2 separate regions of the Homo sapiens genome follow, and region 2 is linked to region 1. Evidence: fine-mapped expression QTL. Tissue or cell type: gastroesophageal junction. Region 1 holds a variant in brackets; the other region holds the start of a gene. All regions are shown on one strand. Distances are between the middles of the regions.

Region 1 (11,004 bases):
CTGTCCCCTCTCCTTCTAGTACTCCAATTACACATATTTTAGCTTGATATTTTCCACATATTTATGAGGTTCTGTGCATTTCTATTACTTTCTTTCTCTGTATTTTTCCACTGGATACTTTCTATTGACCTACCTTCAAGGTCACTGACTCTTTCTTCTTCCATTTCCAATCTACTACTGAATGATTCAAGGGATTCTTTTATTTCAGTTATATACATTTTAAGTGTAAAACTGTACTGCCCAATAATGTAATCACTGTGTGCCTTTTAAAATTCTAATTAATTTTTGGTTCATTCACAGCAGCTACATTTCAGGTGCTCAAGAGCCACATGAGGCTAGTGACTATTGTGTTAGACAGTGCTGATATAGAACAGTTCCATTGCTGCAAAAGTTCTTTGAACAGCATTACTCTAGAATTTCCATTTGGCTCTCTATGATAATTTCTATTTCTTTACTGTGATTTCTCATTTTGTATGTATTTTCCATATGTATATATTTTAAGTCTTTGAGCATATTTATAATAGCTGTTTTCAATTCCTTATCTACTAATTGCAACATTTGGATCATCCTGGGGTTGATTTCTACTGATGGGATTTTTTTTTTTTGGTAGAGGCAACATTTTCCTATTTATGTGTCTAGTGATTTCTGATTGGATACTAAACATTTTTTTTAAATACACTGTAAAGACTCTGAAGTCTGTTTTGTTTTTCTGTCAATTTATTCAGTCATGCAAGCCAATTGAGTATCTCAATCTCCAAAAATCATCTCCCCCTTGACCAGTAGCAACTAAAATCTCCACCAGTTTCTTCCACTTCCAGTTGCTTTTTTTTTTCCTGATCCTTATCATTATTATTAGACCAATATCATTATCAAATCCACCCAAAAAATTGTCAAGTCTCTTCTCAATATACATATCTTAGATGTGCCAAGAATTTGGGTGAATCTCATATGTATTTTGGGCTCTCCTCCTTTGAGGCACACTTCCTTCAAGTATTTCCTTCTTAACTTTTTTTTTTTTTTTTTTTGACACAGAGTCTTGCTCTGTCACCCAGGCTGGAGTGCAGTGGCATGATCTCAGCTCACTGCAACCTTCTGCGCCTCCTGGGTTCAAGCGATTCTGTGCCTCAGCCTCCCAAGTAGCTGGGATTACAGGCGCCCACCACCATGCCTGGCTAATTTTTGTATTTTTAGTAGTGATGGGGTTTCACCATGTTGGCCAGGCTGGTCTTGAACTCCTGACCTCAGGTGATCCATCCACCTTGGCCTCCTAAAGTGCTGGGATTACAGGAGTAAGCTACTGCACCCGGCCAACTTTCTTTCTTCCTGTCCGGAATGCTGTCCTCTGATACCTCAAGCCAATACAGTTGTAGCTTTCTACCACCTCAATTTATGCACAGATTTGGGAGTTCCAGGCAAAACGCTTCCAACTCACAAATATCATTCATGCGGTCTCACAAGGGCAGACTCACCTCTGGTTTCTGCCTACTTTTGGGTATTCCTCTGTGCTGTTTTGTGTTTTGCTCAGAGTTTATAATTGTCATCTGTGGAAGACTTACTGTGACCAAATTACTACACTACTACCAGAAGGCAGTAGCTCCCACCTTGTGTTTTTATTTTTTATAGTAAACTGAAATAGTCACTCAGTTTGTGTTGCTGAAGACTATTAACATTAAGGCATATCATCTTAGGAGGAGAAGCTTCTTGATAGCATAGAGGAAACGCAAAGCCTGGCCTCATACCATTAGCTGTCAGAGTCCAAAGTCATCAGTACCTCTAGGTTACAGTTGTCAGTGATTACTAAGGAACACAGACTATGTAAGAGGAAAATATCACAGTCCTAACTTGACCTAACCTTTCCTTCAATTACCTTCAATCCCTAGAAACAACTTTTGCTTTCTCTTCCATGGAAAGAAATGTTAGAGCTTGAGAATCGAATCAGCATTGTTATCATACCCACCCCCATTGTTATACCCACCCCCCAAAATTCTCCTTAAACCACCTCCTTAAATGCATAGATCATGCTCATACAGAAGCCTAACAGTTCAGTAGTAATCGGATGATAGATGTGCATGCGGGTGCTCAGAAGGCATATTGCATATGGCAGGGGGTAGGGAACCCAGTCTTGCCATTTTTTTAGCTGTGTGGTCTTGAGAATTTTTTTTAACTGCTCTAAGCCACAGTTTTCTCATCTGTAAATTTGGGATAATAGTATCTATTTTGTAGGGTTGTTAAGAAAGTTAAATTTTTAAAGTATAGAAAGTACCTATCATACTGTTGCTAACAGAAGACTCTCAAGAATTCTGTTTCCTCCCCTGCTTCCTTAAGATCTGTATACAATGCACTTGAGGTCTCTACCATTAACCACTTGAAATTCCAGTTGGAGGAAAAGTCTTACCAGCAAAAAGAAATTCCCCAAATTTATCCACATCAGTAATAGTTGTCTAGATACTTGTCACTCACCCAGAGTGACCCTGAACATGGCATCTTCAGTTCAGAATTTCTGAGGACTGCTTCAATTTCCTACAGTTTCATGGAAACTATACTTCATAGGATTCCTGGTGCAAGACCACTTTTCAATGCAGTCCTCCAATTTACAGGATCATCCAAGAAATAAGTCCCTTTAAATCATCTAGTATCCAGATGAGAAAACCTGTGACATCATAACTTCCATCGTCACTTCCTTAGGCTAATGAATTAATGCTGTTTGCATTCACCTGTCCTAAGATGAAATTCATGCAAACCTGATTGCATTGCCCCCAAAACTGGACAAAAGCTTCCAACCTGCCCAGGGCTTTTCATTCATTTTATCTTCCATAAAAGGCAACCATCGTTGAACCACTTTAGTGCCCACTGAGAAAAGACCTTCCAAGGTGTTGGATCTACCAGTGAACATCTGCTTCTCAGAATGTCAAGCAGTTATTGACTTTTTGCTTTGTGCGAGCACATTGCAATGTTCTGTTTCTTATCATGGGCACTTCGCCTAAAGTGTTGGAGCCGTGCTTATCCACAAAATGAGAGGTGGCCCTGAGGCTCTAATTACTTACCACTGAAGAACAATGTCATCGCAGGAGGAACAACCCACAAACTGTCTGCACAGGAGTCCAGCTGCTCCCCAACTATCTGTGCAAGCCTGTCCCTACAAACTACCTGCACAAGGCTATGGGGGATTTATTTCTAATGATGAACCAGTCCCCGGGACCCATGAAGGAGACTTGCCTTTAGTGCTTAGAACTAAAAATCAGATGTTTGCCAGTGAGTGCAGACAGGCAGTACTGAATCCTTCCCTGAAATGCCTCCCTGCTCATTGCAGATTAGGTTGAGCCACCCTCATATTAAGTTATCACTTGGATTCATTCACTCATTCGATGCTTATTGAGGGTCTACCTGTATAAAGACAGCAGTGAACAAAATAGCCACTGGCCCTGCCTGGAGTAGCTTATATTATAGTGCAGTGAGACAGATAATAAACAAATGGATAAATATAATATCATGTAGTGATAAGTGCTGAGGAAGAAAATAACAGAGAAGCCGAAGACAGGTGCAGTGCCTCAGGCCTATAGTCCTAGCTGAGGCAGGAAGATCCCTTGAGCCCAAGAGCTCAAGGCTGCAGGTGAGCTAGGATTGCACCACTGCACTCCAGCCTGGGCAACAGAGTGAGACCCTGTCTCTAAAAATAAAGAGAGAAAGTAAAGAAAATAATAGAGTAGGATCAAAGGCTAGAAAGTGAGGGAGTCAAGGAGTTATTTATTGCAGAGTGCTTAAGAAACCCTTCCCAGTAAGATAGTATTTGAGCAGAGACCTGAAGACCATGCACACACCTTAGAGAAGTGTGTCTGGTGGAGGCTGCAGTAAGGGCAAATGTCTGCAGCAGGAGCATCCTTGTTGAATTTGAGGAATGACAAGGGGAAAATGAGGCAGGAGCAGAGAGAGCAGGAGGCAGGGAGGCAGGAAGTGAGCCCAAGAAGTTGAATGAGGCCAAATCCTGTAGGGCCCCTCCTTCAGCTGATGCCGAGGCAATAGCAGCAACTTCCTAGCAGGCATCCTGGCTTCCAGTCTTGCTTGCCTCCAACCCATTTTCCGCACAGGTACTGGAGTGAGCTCCCTGATGTAACCAGGTTGCCTTCCTATGTAACACCCTCAAATGCTTCCATTCCATTGAGTGCAGGATCAAGCTCAAGCTCCTTAAGCTGTACCACAAGGGCTTCCTTGAAACTGGCGCCCCCTCCAGCCTCTCTTCTCTGTAATTTATGCCCCAGCACAACCAAGCTGCCTGAACTTGCCCCACTGCATGGAGCTCCTTCCTCTCCCAGCCATCACTCACGGGCCTCCTCTGTCTGGAAGGCACACACCAAATTGATTCAGCCAGTGACTCAAGAGTCAGGACCATAGAGGCCATTCAAGGTCAGTTACTGGGTGAACAAGGAGAAATCTATCCCAGGCACTGATAATAGGCATAACCAAGAATCAGCTCTAAGGATGCTATTAGGATCCAAAACCAAGGTAAGAAGAGGCAGATGCTCACACTGCAGGAACTGGTTAATTCCATCAGGGGATGTTTCTTAGGACAGGAACAACAAGTGTTGACTGAGTGCAGGCTTCTCATAGAAGACCCACTACACATCACAAGACATACAAAACACTGTATGTATGTGTTTTCTCTAATCCTCACAGCACAAATTATACAGATGAGATAAATGAGGTTGCCCAAATCCTAAGAAGCAGAGCTGGGATCCAAACCCCAGCAAATGCGATTCCACAGTCCATACTCTCATGCCTTCCAGAGCCGGGTAGGGAGGCAACAGCAGCATCAAAGATTGAAGGGTCCAGTGGCCGTGCCCTCCATGGAACCAGAGCCACCCACACACATGCATGCACTCGAAGAGGCAGCTACAGGGAAGGGACTGAAAACAAGCCTTGGTACCACCTGCCTGTGCTCAGTTCCTGGGTCTACATGGGTTAGCTCATGGCCTCTCTGTGCCTCAGTTGACTCAGCTGTAAAAACGAGGCAATTATTACTGGCACATAGGATTAGAAGAGTTAATTCCTGTAGAGCACTTACACAATGTCTGGTGCATGTTAAGTGCTCAATTAATGTTAGCTACACTAGCAAGACATGGCAAAGTCACACGAAAGTCCTCTTCCGGTCCACCCTGCTGGTCCGAGATCACTAGCACAGTGGTGGCAAGAAGTGGCCTGAATTTCAGAGAGCACAGGGTCAATATTTACCAGAATTTGCCTTTATTCTGCACTGGCCCGAAGAGGTGTTTTCTGGGGAGTCAACCCACCGCTTTGTGCAACCCTAGAGTGTGTCTTTGTGAGGAGGCTTCACCCTGCCCCACTCCTTTCCTGCTGCTCATTTTCATGTTCAGAGATGGCCACAGCGGTCACTGCTAGTTTAGTTCACTTCCTCTTCATTGTAAACTCCAAGTCCCAAACCTACCAGCCCTCACTCTCCTGAGCCGCTCAGCAGCCCAGCTGATTTCATCACAGCCATAACTCTCTAGAATAGCTGCCGTTACGCAACAGCTCCTAGCGCAAAACTGGTACGACTGTGTCTACTGCAATGTATTCATCAGTTTCCACAGGCATTTATTTAGTGCCTACTGTGTGTGTGTCATATAGATGCCTACTGAGCAGTCTCCCTCCACCATGCACCCCCACCATCACTGCAGACACGCTTCATTGTCATCCCTGAGTGGGAGCCATCTCTTTAGAGAGGGTATGAGATGTTTTGCCCGAGTTTGAGATAGTCCTCTCCTGGTGCCCCTCTGTTCCGTCCTCTCATCCCACGTCACCTGCTTGGGCTCCTCTCTGGCTCTAGCTCCTGCAGGGTGTCTCTTTTGCCTGGGTAGGAGACGTCCTCTCCCTCCTGATGCAGCCTCTGCTGTCTCTCCAACAGTCTGTGCTCAGCCTGGAGATCACCCCCAAAGGGGTCTGCTCCCTCGTCTCATGCCTACTTAACTGATCTGCCTCCAGCCATCACCGTCTCGGGTCTTCATGTCCCTGATGCTCTGTAGCCACCAAGAACATGTCCTGCTTCATAATCTCCTGTTGTTTTTTAAGCATTCCCTGTCACCACTCCCATCCCTATCTGTTGGGTATTTCTGCATCTCTGAGTTTCCTTTTTTTTTGAGACGGCGTGTCACTCTGGTGCCCAGGCTGGAGTGCAATGGCACGATCTCGGCTCACTGCAACCTCCACCTCCCGGGTTCAGGTGATTCTCCTCCCTCAGCCTTCTGAGTAACTGGGACTACAGGCATGCCACC[A/C]GTCCTGGCAATTTTTGTATTTTTAGTAGAGATGGGGTTTCACCATGTTGGCCAGGCTGGTCTCAAACTCCTGACCTCAAGTGATCTGCCCACCTTGGCCTCCCAAAGTGCTGGGATTACAGGCATGAGCCACTGCACCCGGCTTTCCTTCTCTCTTGAACACTGAGTTCTCAGCCATCTGTCCATTCATAAATCTTGCTACCCTCCTCGCCACTGCCCATCCAGAAGTCTACCAAACAATTCTAAGAACAAGTATTTTCACATCCAACTCCACATTTCCTTCCACGGCAGCTCCAGACTCTCAGACAGGTGGCCTTTGAACCCCAGATTCATGGGTATTTACAGACAGGTATCAACTCCACCATGAATCTAGAGTCTTGAAAATGAAAAAGAAATTTCAAATTGTGCCTCTGCTTTCAACTAGTATCACATTTCCGCTTTGCAAGAAACAGCAAGTGCAGCGTGGGTGACCAGATAGTGACCTGTCATTCCACACTCCTCCTGCAATGTCCATCAAGCTGGCTTCAAGTGAGTCTGCATATCATCTTTGCTACTGTGAAGATGCCACAGAGCTCTTGAGGGTACACAATAGGCATTCAGCCACACTCCTGCGCACATGGGTGCCTACAACTTCCCCATCCTTGTCTCAGGCTTATTTTTCTGTGGTATTAAAGGATCACAAAGAATTTCTAAGTCAGTCGAGTTCTTTGTTGCTATCATTAGTTGTAGTGCATGGAGGGGGTAAACAATGCAGCTTGTTCTTTTGCCTCTCCAGTTCCAGAGATTTATTTACTAGAATTTTTTTTTTTTTTTGCCATTGAGTTGGAAGAAATCAAGAAAGACTAATTACTTTCTTTTTTAGCTGAGCCTAAAGCTGGATACAAGGGTAAACCTGGGAGATTTACATCTGAGTGGCGGTTTTATGTCTCAGCCTGGAGGCGGTAGTTGAACCCACTGTGTCTTTGCATTTGTTTTTGGAAAACTGTGAGCATCACCCCCAGCATGGATGCCTGAGTGGCAACCAAGACCCTAATCTATAGCATGGGGTCCCCATCTGGACAATGATGCACCAATGAGTGCCGAGTAGAAGTGGATCCTATCCTCCTATGCTCCTCAGGATAGGCCACCCTGTGCTGTGAAAACAGACCACAAGAAACCCCAAAAGCTAAGTAAATGCCATGATGATCTTGCTCATGGATGCTCTGCTCATTGCAGTGACTTCAATGGCTACGAGAGACGCTGTCTCAGCCAGGGTAAGGGGATGCAGTGACTCACATTGGCTCACAGAGTAGACACAGCCGTGCCTACTTCCAGGGCTGGGGAGTGTGTCCTGCCACGTGCCCACAGCGGGGGCCACCGCGCTGATGATCACTGCAACTTGCACTCCTTTGAAGCTCTGGGGCTGCTCCCGCATCTGCGACAGTCAGCATAGCCCCTGACCACACCCTTTCTGCACTTTGGGTTCATGGGTTCATGGGTTCCATTTCGTTCCCCAACAGCAGTTTGGAAAACTTCTCATATATTTCTCCAGGTCACACCAACACAGGAGTGAAAACGGAGTTTCATCAGTTGAGAAGGAAAGAGGAGGGGAAGGAAGGGCAGGACAGGGGAGGGGAGGAGAGGGGAGACCTCAAGCTCATGCAGGTACAAGGGAGGTGTCCCCTGTACACTAGTCCCATGTCACTCGCCGGTGGCTCCTGGTCTGGCTGCAGCTGCTCTACCTTGCCATCCAGGTGCTCTGCCTTCTCTGGAACTTTGCCCTGTCGTCCTCAGACACCAGCTGTACCCCATCACCCTTGCATTACATGCTGGTACGTGGGCCACAGAGCAATATGAGCTTCTGTATTTGTATCCTTGCCTGACAGAAGTTCCCAGAACAGCTGGTGTGTTCCTGTGTCTGTCATTACCTTCTCCACACCCCAGGACAGAGAGACGGCAACAACGTAAAAAACACTCCCCACCATACTAAGTGACCCCTCCCCTCGGGCCCTGCACCTGTGCCCAAGAACCAACTCTACACTCCGACTCCTTTTCTCAGGATGGGTTGGTCTGTTTATTTTGCCCATAAGCCTCCTGCATTCCTCCCGCACGTCTCCTCCTGGCTGGACCTCTCCTGAATCCCAGGGCAGACAGAGGTTAGGGTCTTAAACAGCCCCCAGCATGCCCATAAGCAATGTCAGAGAAGCCACGAGGTGTCTACTGCAATGACAAGGAAGACATTGTTCACTGCTTCAATCACCGGAGAAGACAAATTCCCCACACAGTAGAGCCTGTCTGTGCACAGTGGGCTGAAACAGACACTTCTCCCCTCCAGAGTGCTGCAGAGGGGCCTCCTGCATTAGGAGAAAAGTTGGGCCAGGTGACCTCCTAGTCCTTCCAGCTCTGAGATTCAGCCATGTTCCTCCCAGCAGGGACTGATTGTATTTGCTTCACCCTTGGGAGCCAGCAGGGTTTGGAGCATAGAGAAGAGTGCACACACCCAGCGCCCTGGCTCCAATCGCCCCAGCTCTGTCCCTGACACAGCCTTCCCAGCTTTGGGGGAAGTCCTCAGGGGTGCGACAGGGCCCGGACTAGAGTGAAGCAAGTCCGGCCCTCAGTCCAGGCAGAAAATTTAGGGGGACCCCAGAAACTCACTAAACAAGATAATATTTATTGCGGCATTCTTAGGAAACCAACATGAAATAAAAACTATCCACAACGAACAAAATATCCAAATGTGGACTAAAGACAGGCCTTGTCCCTGTACTTGGACAACCCACACCCTAGTCCCAGCCCGGCCAGATCCTGTCTTTATTTCACATGTGGACAGCAGACAGTTTGCTCATCACAGATTTTCTCTGCTTCGACTATGTGTGATGGTCTTGACTCCTGAGTATTTGGCTGCCCCTTTTAAACGTGGCTGCAGGCAAGTGCCTCGCTCTCCCCATCCTGGCCTGGGTCCCGCCCCCCCCCAGGCCTCTGGAGCTGCCCTGCGCTATTTGCTCTCCCTCTCCTGTCGGCTTGGGCCGCCTTCATCTCTCATGGAGTTCCGGGCAGGGGACCACCCCTGTAGTAGACACTGTCGGTGCCCCAGCTACTCAGCCTTGGCCTTGACGGTTCCAACGCCCGTGGCTTCTGACTGCAAACACCCATGACTCAGTCTGGGAGCTTTCACAGGAGCCAGGAGCATGTTCACAGCCCACATCTGGGGAAGCCGGATCTGCCAGAGAATTAACCCCTATGGATGTTAAAACATCTCAGCTCCTCACCCCTCAGGAGGGATGATTTGGAATGATGTGGTGCACCTGGCCCTGAGGCCTGTGAAGGGATCCAGGTGCAGGATGTGGGCCTGGAACACACCCAGAGCCAGCTGCTCCCCTTCCACGCTCATTTCCTAGTCCCTTATCAGTGCTTCCTGGGATCACCTCCCCAGACAACTGCTTCTGGGGCCATCTGGCTGAGACAAACCAGCTGCCATTGCCACCTAGGGCCACCCATGCCCTGTCTACTGATGGCCCCCAGAGCCTCACAATGCCAATGCCACCTGGCTGAAGCCCCTTTGCTAATGCGGTCAGGTGGGACAAGGGGACAATCCCCTCTCCCATCCATCCCATGTCCCTTTGGCCCACAGACGGTTCTGGTGAGTGCAGGAAGCATCCCATTGCATCCCCAGCACCAGGCAGGGGGTCTTGTATGACAAACACCCTTCCTTTCCACTCTAGTCCTTCTGTGGCAGGCAGGTCTCACAGATGCAGGCTTCCATAACAACTGTTTCAGTACTGACTGAGTGGCTAAGCTAAATATTAAAAGCCAGCACCCTTACACAAAGGCTGGAATGTAACAAAGGCCCACCAGGAGTTTTGCCTAGGCCTTTCCTGGGCCTTAAAGCATGACAAGATAACAAAGGAATTCTTAACAGGACCCATTTAGGATTAAACAAGTTTTACTGGGGGTCTGAAGAAACTTGCCAAACCACTGTGACTTAGCCCGAGACAAGATAAGGGTAATCACCCCAGCACCTGGACCCATTTTAGATCAAGTAAATTTACTGAGGCTTCAGAGGAAGGTCTTCAGGACTCAGGCCTTAGGTATAGATTAAAATAAGTTAATCGCTTATGTCTTTTCTTTTTTTTTTTTTTTTTTTTTCCTGAGATGAAGTTTCGCTCTTATCATCACCCAGGCTGGAGTGCAATGGTGTGATCTCAGCTCACTGCAACCTCTGCCTCCTGGGTTCAAGCAATTCTCCTGCCTCAGCCTCCTGAGTAGCTAAGATTACAGGTGCCTGCCACCATGTGTGGCTAATTTTTGTATTTTTAGTAGAGACAGGGGTTTTACCAGGTTGGCCAGGCTGGTCTCGAACTCCTGATCTCAGGTGATCTGCCTGCCTCGGCCTCCCAAAGTACTGCAGGCATGAACCACTGCACCCAGCCAACTTACGTCTTTTTTTTTTTTTTCTTTTTTTTTTTTTGAGACGGAGTCTTGCTCTGTCACCCAGGCTGGAGTACAGTGGCACGATCTCAGCTCACTTCAACCTCCGCCTCCCGGGTTCATGCCATTCTCCTGCCTTAGCCTCCCAAGTAGCTGGAACTACAGGCACCCGCCACAACGCCTAATTTTTTTTTTTTGGAGAGATGGGGGGGTTTCACCGCGTTAGCCAGGATGGTTTCGATCTCCTGACCTCGTGATCCGCCCGCCTCGGCTTCCCAAAGTGCTGGGATTACAGGCGTGAGCCACCGCACCCAGCCCAACTTATGTCTTT
Region 2 (9,052 bases), 810 kb after region 1:
CAACAGGAGCGGCGCTGACGCCGTGTGCCAGGCTCCAGTGCGGGCACTTGGCAGACACCATCTCATTTAATTCTCAACAACTCTGAAGTTGCTACTATCATTACCATTCTGCAGACGAGGAAACAGGCACAAAGAAGTGTGAAAGGCCTCACAGCTTGCAACCCAGCAACCTGACTTCAAAGCTGACCTCTTTACCTCATGGAGTCAGTATGCTGCCTCATGGGGATAGTCAGTAGCCACTTGGGGGAAACTGAGGACCATGAAGGAGCAGAAACAGGAGGGCCTCCTCCTGTAATATGACAACATGCTCCAGAGACCTTTTTCTGAGGGTCCCCAGCCCACCCCAACTATGGGACTAACCATACTTGAATCTACCCCAAACCAAGGGTTAAGTTCACGCCTAAGCATAAGGACTAAAGTGATGAGGCTGAGGGTGTACCACCAGGCTGAGGGGGCTAGGTGGGCAGGCTGCCCAGCCAGGCCCTGGACTCACCACATGGAGCCTCCCAGTGAACCCTGTGAGTGCCCACCCTTTGCAGCCTCGGCAGGCTCAGTCAGCAGATCTGAGAGCCGGGAGTCAGCGGAAGGCAGGGCTAGGTGAAACAAACCTGCAATCATGACCTCGATCTCCCCCAAGGTGAGGTCTTCTAGATCTGTGAGGAAGAGGTTCACATCTCCCACCATGCAGCTCTCTTCGGTGGCGCCTGGCTGGGCCTGCCACTTCTCGGCATCCAGCACAATGAAGGTACACTCTGAGGAGGAGGTGACAGGGCTATCACACACACTCCCCAGAGGAGAGAAGAGAGGATGGTACTCCTACCCAAGCCAGAGCACTGCAGAACACCAGCATCTCTGAGTCTGCCAGGAGAAGAGGGGGTCCCAGAGCTTCCTTCAGCTCATTACAAAATTCCAAATCTGCCTCATACAGAAAAAGCCTCTCCAACCAGCAACCAAATTCTCAGAGAGCAGGGAACACAGAGGAGGGCAGTCACCACACTAGGCTGTGGTGAGGGACATGAGGGGCAGGGCCTCAATTTACAGCCAGAGCCCCAAATGCTCTACTTTCTCCAAATCCTTCCAAGCCCGATGCAGTGGGTGGGGAAGAGGACAGAAGGGTCAGCCACAGGGACTGGCTTCAGGGCCATGAGAATACAGGAGTTCCAGCACCTTCCAGGCTTTTCACAAAGCTTCTATGGCCGGGGCTGGGAAAGGGAAGGAACCTGGAGACTGACTGTGGAGTCAGCCCTCCCAGTACCAGGGCTAGGGGAAGTGGGGGGGCACTCCTCACTGTCTGCATCTTCCTGCCAGCTGCACTGCATGGCATACTCCTGCTCCAGGGTCAGCGGCTCCGAGGCTGTCAAACGCTGCAGCTCCTCTGATTTCATCCACTCGTGGTACCTGCTGGGACAGAGGGGTGGCTTTAGACATGGAGGACTCATTCAGAGGCATACGTCTGACACCTTATGAGGGTCCAGAACCAGACAGGGCTAACATAGGGCTCAAAGAAGACCCAAAGGGTTATGATTGCTCCTAAGGCAGGGGCCACAGACACAAGACCCAGAAGCAAGCTAGTCTTACACAAGAACAGCAGGACGAGTCAGTTCTATCTGTCCAATTTCCTATCCTGTCTCGGGTCAGTGCGGAGGAGCAGTCTGAAACCAAACATTCTTCAAATTCCAGAAGGGGATGTATATGGCAAGCCAACCTCAACAAAGGCGGCTGGACAGATCCCACGAAGTTAGGGCACCAGGAACCCTCAAACGGAAAACTACAAGTAGAGAATACCCATCTACAGCACCACTATCCCAATCTACCAGACATGTGCCAACTGCCCCCACAGGAATCCCATCATGACTCAGTCCTGGCCTTTTGAATGGTAGATATCACAACTCATCAGCTCAGAGTTCAAGGACAAGCTAACATTAAGTCTCCAAGAACTGAACATACTCACTGGCACCAGGGAAACATCACTAATTTACAATTAGGTGAGAAGACAATTTCTTTTTCTTCCACGTTTAGTTTACATAAAGCAATTCCTTGCTGAAAGGCCAAAAAGCTGAGAGAATGAAAGGGAAGAGGATGGGCAGCTCCTCCCAAGGAAGTCACAGTCCCCAGGTTCTGCTATTTTTTTTTTTTTTTTTTTTGAGACAGAGTTTTACTCTTGTTGCCCAGGCTGGAATTACAGGCATGTGCCACCATGCCCAGCTATTTTTTTTGTATTTTTATTAGAGACGGGGTTTCTCCACGTTGATCAGGCTGGTCTCTTTTTTTTTTTTTTTTTGAGACGGAGTCTCGATCTGTCACCCAGGCTGGAGTGCAGTGGCGCGATCTCGGCTCACTGTAAGCTCCGCCTCCCGGGTTCACACATTCTCCTGCCTCAGCCTCCCGAGTAGCTGGGACTACAGGCGCCCGCCACCACATCCGGCTAATTTTTTTGTATTTTTAGTAGAGACGGGGTTTCACCATGTTAGCCAGGATGGTCTCGCTCTCCTGAGCTTGTGATCCGCCTGCCTCGGTCTCCCAAAGTGCTGGGATTACAGGCGTGAGCCACTGCGCCCAGCCTTTATTTTATTTTATTTTATTTTTGAGACAAAGTCTCACTCTGTTGCCCAGGCTGGAGTACAGTGGTGTGATCTCGGCTCACCACAACCTCCACCTCCCTGGTTCAAGTGATTCTCCTGCCTCAGCCTCCCAAGTAGCTGGAATTACAGGTGCCGGGCAACAAGCCCAGCTAATTTTTTGTGTTTTTAGTAGAGATGGCGTTTTATCATGTTGGCCAGGCTGGTCTTGAACTACTGACCTCATGATCCACCCGCCTCAGCCTCCCAAAGTGCTGGGATTACAGGCGTGAGCCACCGCACCCGGCCGTTTTTTTGTTTTTGTTTGTTTTTGTTTTTTTGTTTTTTTTGTTTTTTTTTGAGACAGGTTCTTGCTCTGTCACCCAGGCTGGAGTACAGTGGTACAATCACAGCTCACAGCAGTCTTCATCTCCTGGGCTCAGGCAATCCTCCCACCTCAGCCTCCCTAGTAGCTGGGACTGCAGCTGTGCACCACCATGCCTGGCTAATTTTTGTATTTTTTTGTAGAGACAAGGTCTCGCTACGTTACCCAAGCTGGTCTCGAACTGCTGGGCTCAAGCAATCCTCCTGCCACAGCCTCCCAAAGTCCTGGAATTACAGGCGTGAGCCACGGCACCCAGCCTTTTTTCCCCCCTCATATATAATTATTTCTCACAACCAATGTTTCTTCTTAGGGGAAATAGCCCTGAGACTGGGGCTGTACCTTACACAGCTCTGGGTGCTGATACGCACCCCATGTCAAGCGGGAAAGATACCTGGGCACATGCTCCGAGGTGTAGGGTACAAGGACCACCTTCTTCCCCAGCAGCAAGGTGTTCTGATTCAACCTCATGGTAGCAGCCTGCATGCAGATGGGGAGAGCAAAGACTTCAGGACCCTGAATTTCCTCCAACTTTGGGTAGGCGCTCCAGCTTTCCTGCTGGGGCTAAGTTGACTTCCGTCATTAGTTCCGTCTAGACACTTCAAAGAATACAGACTCCAAAATTCTTGCAAGAAAGAGAACCAGGCTGGTTAAGGATAATTAAACAATCCTTGACTCCCACTCCAAGAGGCCAAGCCTGGGCTCCGTTTCTGCCGGTTCCTTCCGTCCACTCCCCAGAACTTCGATTCCTCAAACCCAAGCACCAAGTACCAAGTACCAAAGTATCCCCAGAGCTCCCATTACTTGCCCCAGTCCAGGGATTCCAACCCAGAATCAACTTTCAGCCCTGCCTTAAACCTACTTCCAACCTCTTACCCCGGCGACCACCCCACGGGGCTCTAGCCACTCCCTCCCCGCCCCCGACCACTTCAGGGCAAGGCGGGCTTAGTCTTAGGCCCTCCCCTTTGAGTGGCGTTCTAGACCACTCTCTTCGACCCTCCAACCACGCGGACCCGGGTACTGCCAAGCTCACACCCACCTACCACCGACGAAATCGTCCCCCGCAGAAAGGGTGATCTACCTCCTCCAACCAGCCACGTTCCCAGGCCCGGCCGGCTACCGCCCCTTCCGCATGCGCGTGAGAACGCGCCCCGCCCACTTCCGCCATGCTGACGGCAGCCGCCAGGCCCCAATCCCGGTCCCGCCCCCGCGAGGCGCCCAATCAGCGCGCGCGAAAAAGGTGGGCTGTGGGGCCGGCGCATGCGCGCTGCGGAAGCTGGTGCTGGACAGCTGGCGCCGGCAGCAGCGGACCGGCGGGAGACGGCGGCTTGGGAGCTGGCTGTGCTGCAGGTGTTGGGTCGGGTCGGGTCGGGACGGGCGGGAGAGGACGAGACGGGTCGGGATAGGTTGGGGCGGGGCGGGGCGGCACTAGACTCGGGACTCCTCCAGGAGGGAGAGAGAGGGAGAGGCTGGGAGTGGGGTTCTTGAGAAAAGAGGGAGCTTTGAGGGTGGGGAACCCTAAGAGAGTAGGTGGGGCCAGGGAGTGGAGGCCCCATTAAAAAAAGGAGGCCTTAGTGCCAAGAGTGGAGTTGGAAGGGCAATGTAGGAAAGCCCCCAGCTCCCTGCCCTAGGCAGAGGCGGCAGACAGTTCCTTGGGCTCCCATGTGTGGTAGTGAGCTCCTGGTTCCTGGAACTAAACGAGGATAACCACCCCAGAGCGTGGAAAGGGGGCTCTTGTGGTGGGTGAGACTTAGTGGTTTTAGAGGCCCCTTAAATCACTTGCACCCCGAGCAGCATTGAAAACATCCGTGCTGGGCACAGAGCAGTGCCCTGCACAGCAAGGGAAATGTTAGAAGAAACCGTCCAGATTTCTGTCATCCAGGGTGACCCCTCCCTCGGGGGTGAGTCTTGTGACAGATACTGAGGCCCTAAGTGTCTGTGATAAAAGAACCAGAGGTGGCAGGGGAAGTCTGCAAGCCTCCTCCCACCCCTGTCTCAGTCCATCAGATAGGTGAAGCCTGCTCTTTTGTTTTAAGGAGCTGCGGCAGCCGCCGTCCTTGCACCTAAGGAACCTCTGCTGCCAGCCCTTCCTCACTTTTGGAAATGGCGGGTGAAATTACAGAGACCGGGGAACTCTACTCTTCCTACGTGAGTGTGACTTATAGAACCTTTTGCTCACTTAAGTGTTCCTGGCTTCTAGAAAAGCACATTGCTTGCTGGAGATGGGACTAGTGAGTGCTGCTGCTTGAGCAGACCATAGTGGAAGCAGGATGGGGGAGTTCCATGGGGCAGCGACTACAGTGCTGCTGTGGTGGCTCAGAATGTAAGTCAGATTTATTCTCTTTTTAAGGTGTTTGTCAGAGTGGTCAAGCCAAACAAAATCGCCATGCTGTTTATAATGTTAATCCCGGGCTGGGCACGGTGGCTCACGCCTGTAATCCCAGCACTTTGGGAGGCTGAAGCGGGCAGATCACCTGAGGTCAGGAGTTCAAGACCAGCCTGGCCAACATGGTAAAACCCTGTCTCTACTAAAAATACAAAATTAGCCGGGCATGGTGGCACTGTAATCCCAGCTACTCGGGAGGCTGAGGCAGGAGAATCGCTTGAACCCGGGAGGCGGACGTTGCAGTGAGCTGAGATCGAGCCGTTGCACTCCAGCCTGGGCAAAAAGAGCGAAACTCTGTCTCAAAAATAAAGAAATAATGTTCATCTCCAGGCTACCACACTTGCCTGCAGTGCTGCCCTTCAGATGAACAGTGATTGACAGCTGTTGACTCTGGGTTTTGCTCATCTCAGCAGTTGGAAACCGCTTTGGTCTTTACTGAATTTTAAATTGCACAACTTTTATAGTCTTGGATGGCGTAAGAAGCAGCGAAAGCATACAGAGACTTCTAATTACAGTTTGGTGGACTCTGCAATTAGAACAATTAGAATGATTGATTCTCACTGTCTTAGGTCTGTGTTACCTCTGGCTGCCCCCAACACACACGCAGTTTATCTTCTCTATGTAACGTATGATTGGTCATAGTTGTTACATCACAGGGCCCTCTTGCCTGGATAAGTAGCCAGAGGGTTGGAATAATCAGATGGTTGACTCAGGTTGCTACCAACCCTCCCAGGCAAAAGCAGCACTGCCCTAAGTAGCAAGAGTTTTCTAGAACTTGACCTGCCTTCAACAGCTGCCCTGCCTTGTACATAGCTTCCTAGCCTGGGGATCTCTGGTCTGTTTCTGCTAGCTTCACAGACTAGCATTGTGGTGTGATGGACAAGGAAGTGTCTCCAAGACATTTCCTTCACAGCTGGAAGAAAGCCTTCCTGATTCCAGAGTCTTCCTATTGGGCCTGTGCCATTCATGTGTGGCAATAAAGGAGCCTTCTTCACCCATCACCTGTGTAATTTCTCAGGGGAAGTCTTTTTTTTTTTTTTTTTTTTTTTTTTGAGACAGAGTTCCACTCTTGTTGCCCAGGCTGGAGTGCAATGGTGCAATCTCGGCTCACTGCAACCTCTGCCTCCCAGGTTCAACCTCTGCCTCCCAGGTTCAAGCAATTCTCCTGCCCCACCCTCCCAAGTAGCTGGGACTACAGGCATGCACCACCCTGCCCAGCTAATTTTTTGTATTTAGTAGAGACAGGGTTTCACCATGTTGGTCATGCTGGTCTTGAACTCCTGACCTCAGGTGATCCACCCGCCTCAGCCTCCCAAAGTGCTGGGATTACAGCCGTGAGCCACTGCACCCAGCCTCTCAGGTGAAGTCTTTCATGAACCCTGGAATGGAATAAATAGTGTCCCTCTCATTTGTGGAATTATGTAACAGCTCCTAGCCTCCTGCTGTCAGTGATGAAATCTCTATGCTGTCTATTAATGTAAAAGTCACCACGGCTCCTGCTTTTTCTTACAACATCTGTAAATTTAGAGATAAGGAGATGAGTCATCCCTGTAACTAAGTTTTGTAAGGAAAACACTTGGATATGTCCCCATTTCTTGTATCTCCGGTTGTTTAAGGGGTCCTCTCACATGTCAGCATGTGCCCACAGGAAATGAGGCAGTTAGGCCTGCAAGCTTCAGTGCGCTCTGCCCGTTTTTGTTCTCCATCTCCTCTGTGTTTTATTTCGTTCAGGGTCTTTGTTGCCCAGAGGGCCAGCTCTGGGCATTGGCCATAAACAAGTGCTTGTGTTGTTTTATCCTACTGGTGAAGAGAGATGTAGGGAGGAGATGGGGTGGGATGGGGAGGGGATGATGTGACATCAAACAGGAGGTGTAGTGGTCAGTGTTCTGAGGGGAGAAGACACCTTCTTCCTAAGGGTTCCTTAACTCCCCCGTCCTGGAACAATTCTTGGTCCTCTGTAAGACCAGAAGAGTTGGTTGTCACTGAACCCAGATAAGCTGTGGAACTAACTCACTGCTGATGCTGGCTGCTCTGAGTTCCCCTGCAGGCCCCAGCTCAAGACAACGTGGGCAGAGCTCTGCCCTGGCTGCCTTGGGAAACCAAGACACGGGGCAGGTCATTCATACGTGTGCTTCAGCCCACGCGCATTTACAAGACAAAGCCTCTCCTTAGCTCTCTATTGCCCCATTCATTTTGAGTTCTTTTCCCCTTCAGGAGTTCCAAGGATGTTCGCTTTAGCTTGAATTATTCTGCCTAAAATATTTGTAACAAGCAGACGAACCTCCTAGGTGGCTCAGATGTCACACCCTCTCAAGGGTAGTGCTGAACACGGGAACGTGGTTCAGAGAGGTACATGTCCCCTTAAGGGATCTCAGGATAGGCATGTCTGTTTCCCCATTTATGAGGACCGAGAGTGACACAGAACTGAAGTGGTTGTTGTGTGATCAAAATACAGGATGCTGTAGGTCACGCCCGACAGAAGGGTCGGCCGCTGAGGGTGCCTCTGCCTGCTGGTTCCTGCTGAAGATTGTTGCGGTTGCTTTCGAAGGAGAGAGGCTTGTTTCACACCCTGAAATCCTAGTCATTGCTTCCGCATCTTTGCTGCCTTCTGTTTCCTTTGACAATTGTCAGAGGGGAAGCTGTTGAAAGATACTGGTGACATCTGCCCCATGCAGGTCATGAGTGAGGCTGCTGGGTGGAGACGAGGCATGTGGGATGCTGCACTGAGCTCTCTAGGGCATAGGAGAGCAGGCCAGCCGTCCCAGGGAGCAGTGCCTGTGCCTCCTCCAGTGCAGCCACAGAGGAAGAGGTGAGAATTGGAGATAACTCAGTTTAGAATGCATGCATTGGTCTTCATTATCAAGACTGCAGTAGAGCCTATTCCTCAGCTTTCTGCCACTGCTTCCCAGGAGTCTGGCCCACAGAACTGTCCCACGACCAGCAGAAGAGAACGTCTCCTTTCTCTTCCTTCCCCACAACCCCTCCTGACCCAACCTGTGGCTCAGCCCAGATTTGCTTCCTGCCTCTATGTCTGTTCATTGTGATTGGCCATCACTGATTACCTTTACAGAAGGTGAAGAGGACTGAATGCTCGCCAGGAGTGCCACAGTCCTGAGAAGGCAGAGAAGTCCTACGTTACCCTGCAGGATTCCCTGAGCCCCCACTAAACACACAGGGCTTGCTTTGGAACTGAAAAAATTGCAACAAAGCAAGACAACTGCAATTACCCATTTCTGCTCCCAACTGCCAATAGTTTCTCTCTTCATTCATTTCTTTGTAAAGTTCTTAAAGGTTCCTAAGTTTCTTTTGGGAGCATGCTTATTTCATTATACCTCTCTCTACAGCAGTGGTTGTCAACTAGCGGTGATCCTGCCCCCCAGAGGACAGTAGGCAGTGTCTAGAGACATTTTTGATTGTCAGGACAGTACTGGTTGGAGAGAGGTTGTTACCGGCACCTAGTGGGCAAAGGCCGGGGATGCCACTAAACATCCCACAATGCACAGGACAGGTCCCCATCATGAAAAAAGACCTGGCCCCCAAATTTCCATAGTGCCCAAGCTGAGAAACCCTGATCCACAAGAGACCTTTGACTTTTACATCCCAAGACCTTCAAGCATCCCTGAATTTACAAATGCCTCTTATACTGTTTAGTTTCCCCATAAAACTTTTGCCTAAGAACCATTACTTTCTTTTTTTTTTCTTAAGACAGGGTCTCACTGTGTCACC

Which allele goes with the higher level. Alleles are on the strand shown, and positions count from the first base shown. SD is a standard deviation of normalised expression in the study named.
As copies of C replace A in region 1, the expression in gastroesophageal junction of the gene that starts at base 4,058 in region 2 goes down (small effect, 0.12 SD a copy in GTEx).

Evidence for each region. PIP is the estimated chance that this variant, and not a neighbour inherited with it, causes the effect.
Region 2: it holds the start of NAT9, and the variant in region 1 is fine-mapped to the expression of NAT9 in gastroesophageal junction (GTEx, PIP 0.91).

The regions. Positions count from the first base shown.
Region 1 is chr17:73,964,655-73,975,658 of GRCh38, forward strand. No RefSeq gene overlaps it. Among named protein-coding and RNA genes, the nearest start is that of LINC00469, 140 kb to the left of the region's middle. RefSeq lists enhancers at 8,996-9,695, 9,696-10,393. The variant A/C (reference allele first, on the strand shown) is at 6,267.
Region 2 is chr17:74,772,288-74,781,339 of GRCh38, forward strand. NAT9 (N-acetyltransferase 9) reads right to left here and starts at 4,058. Exons shown (of 7, transcript NM_015654.5): 1 at 3,980-4,058; 2 at 3,335-3,420; 3 at 1,289-1,401; 4 at 609-752. The coding sequence starts at 3,411. It overlaps SLC38A12 (solute carrier family 38 member 12), which reads left to right and starts at 4,212. Exons shown (of 10, transcript NM_017728.4): 1 at 4,212-4,290; 2 at 4,977-5,088. The coding sequence starts at 5,044. RefSeq lists enhancers at 3,740-3,859, 7,770-7,819, 7,910-8,119 and a silencer at 8,698-8,867.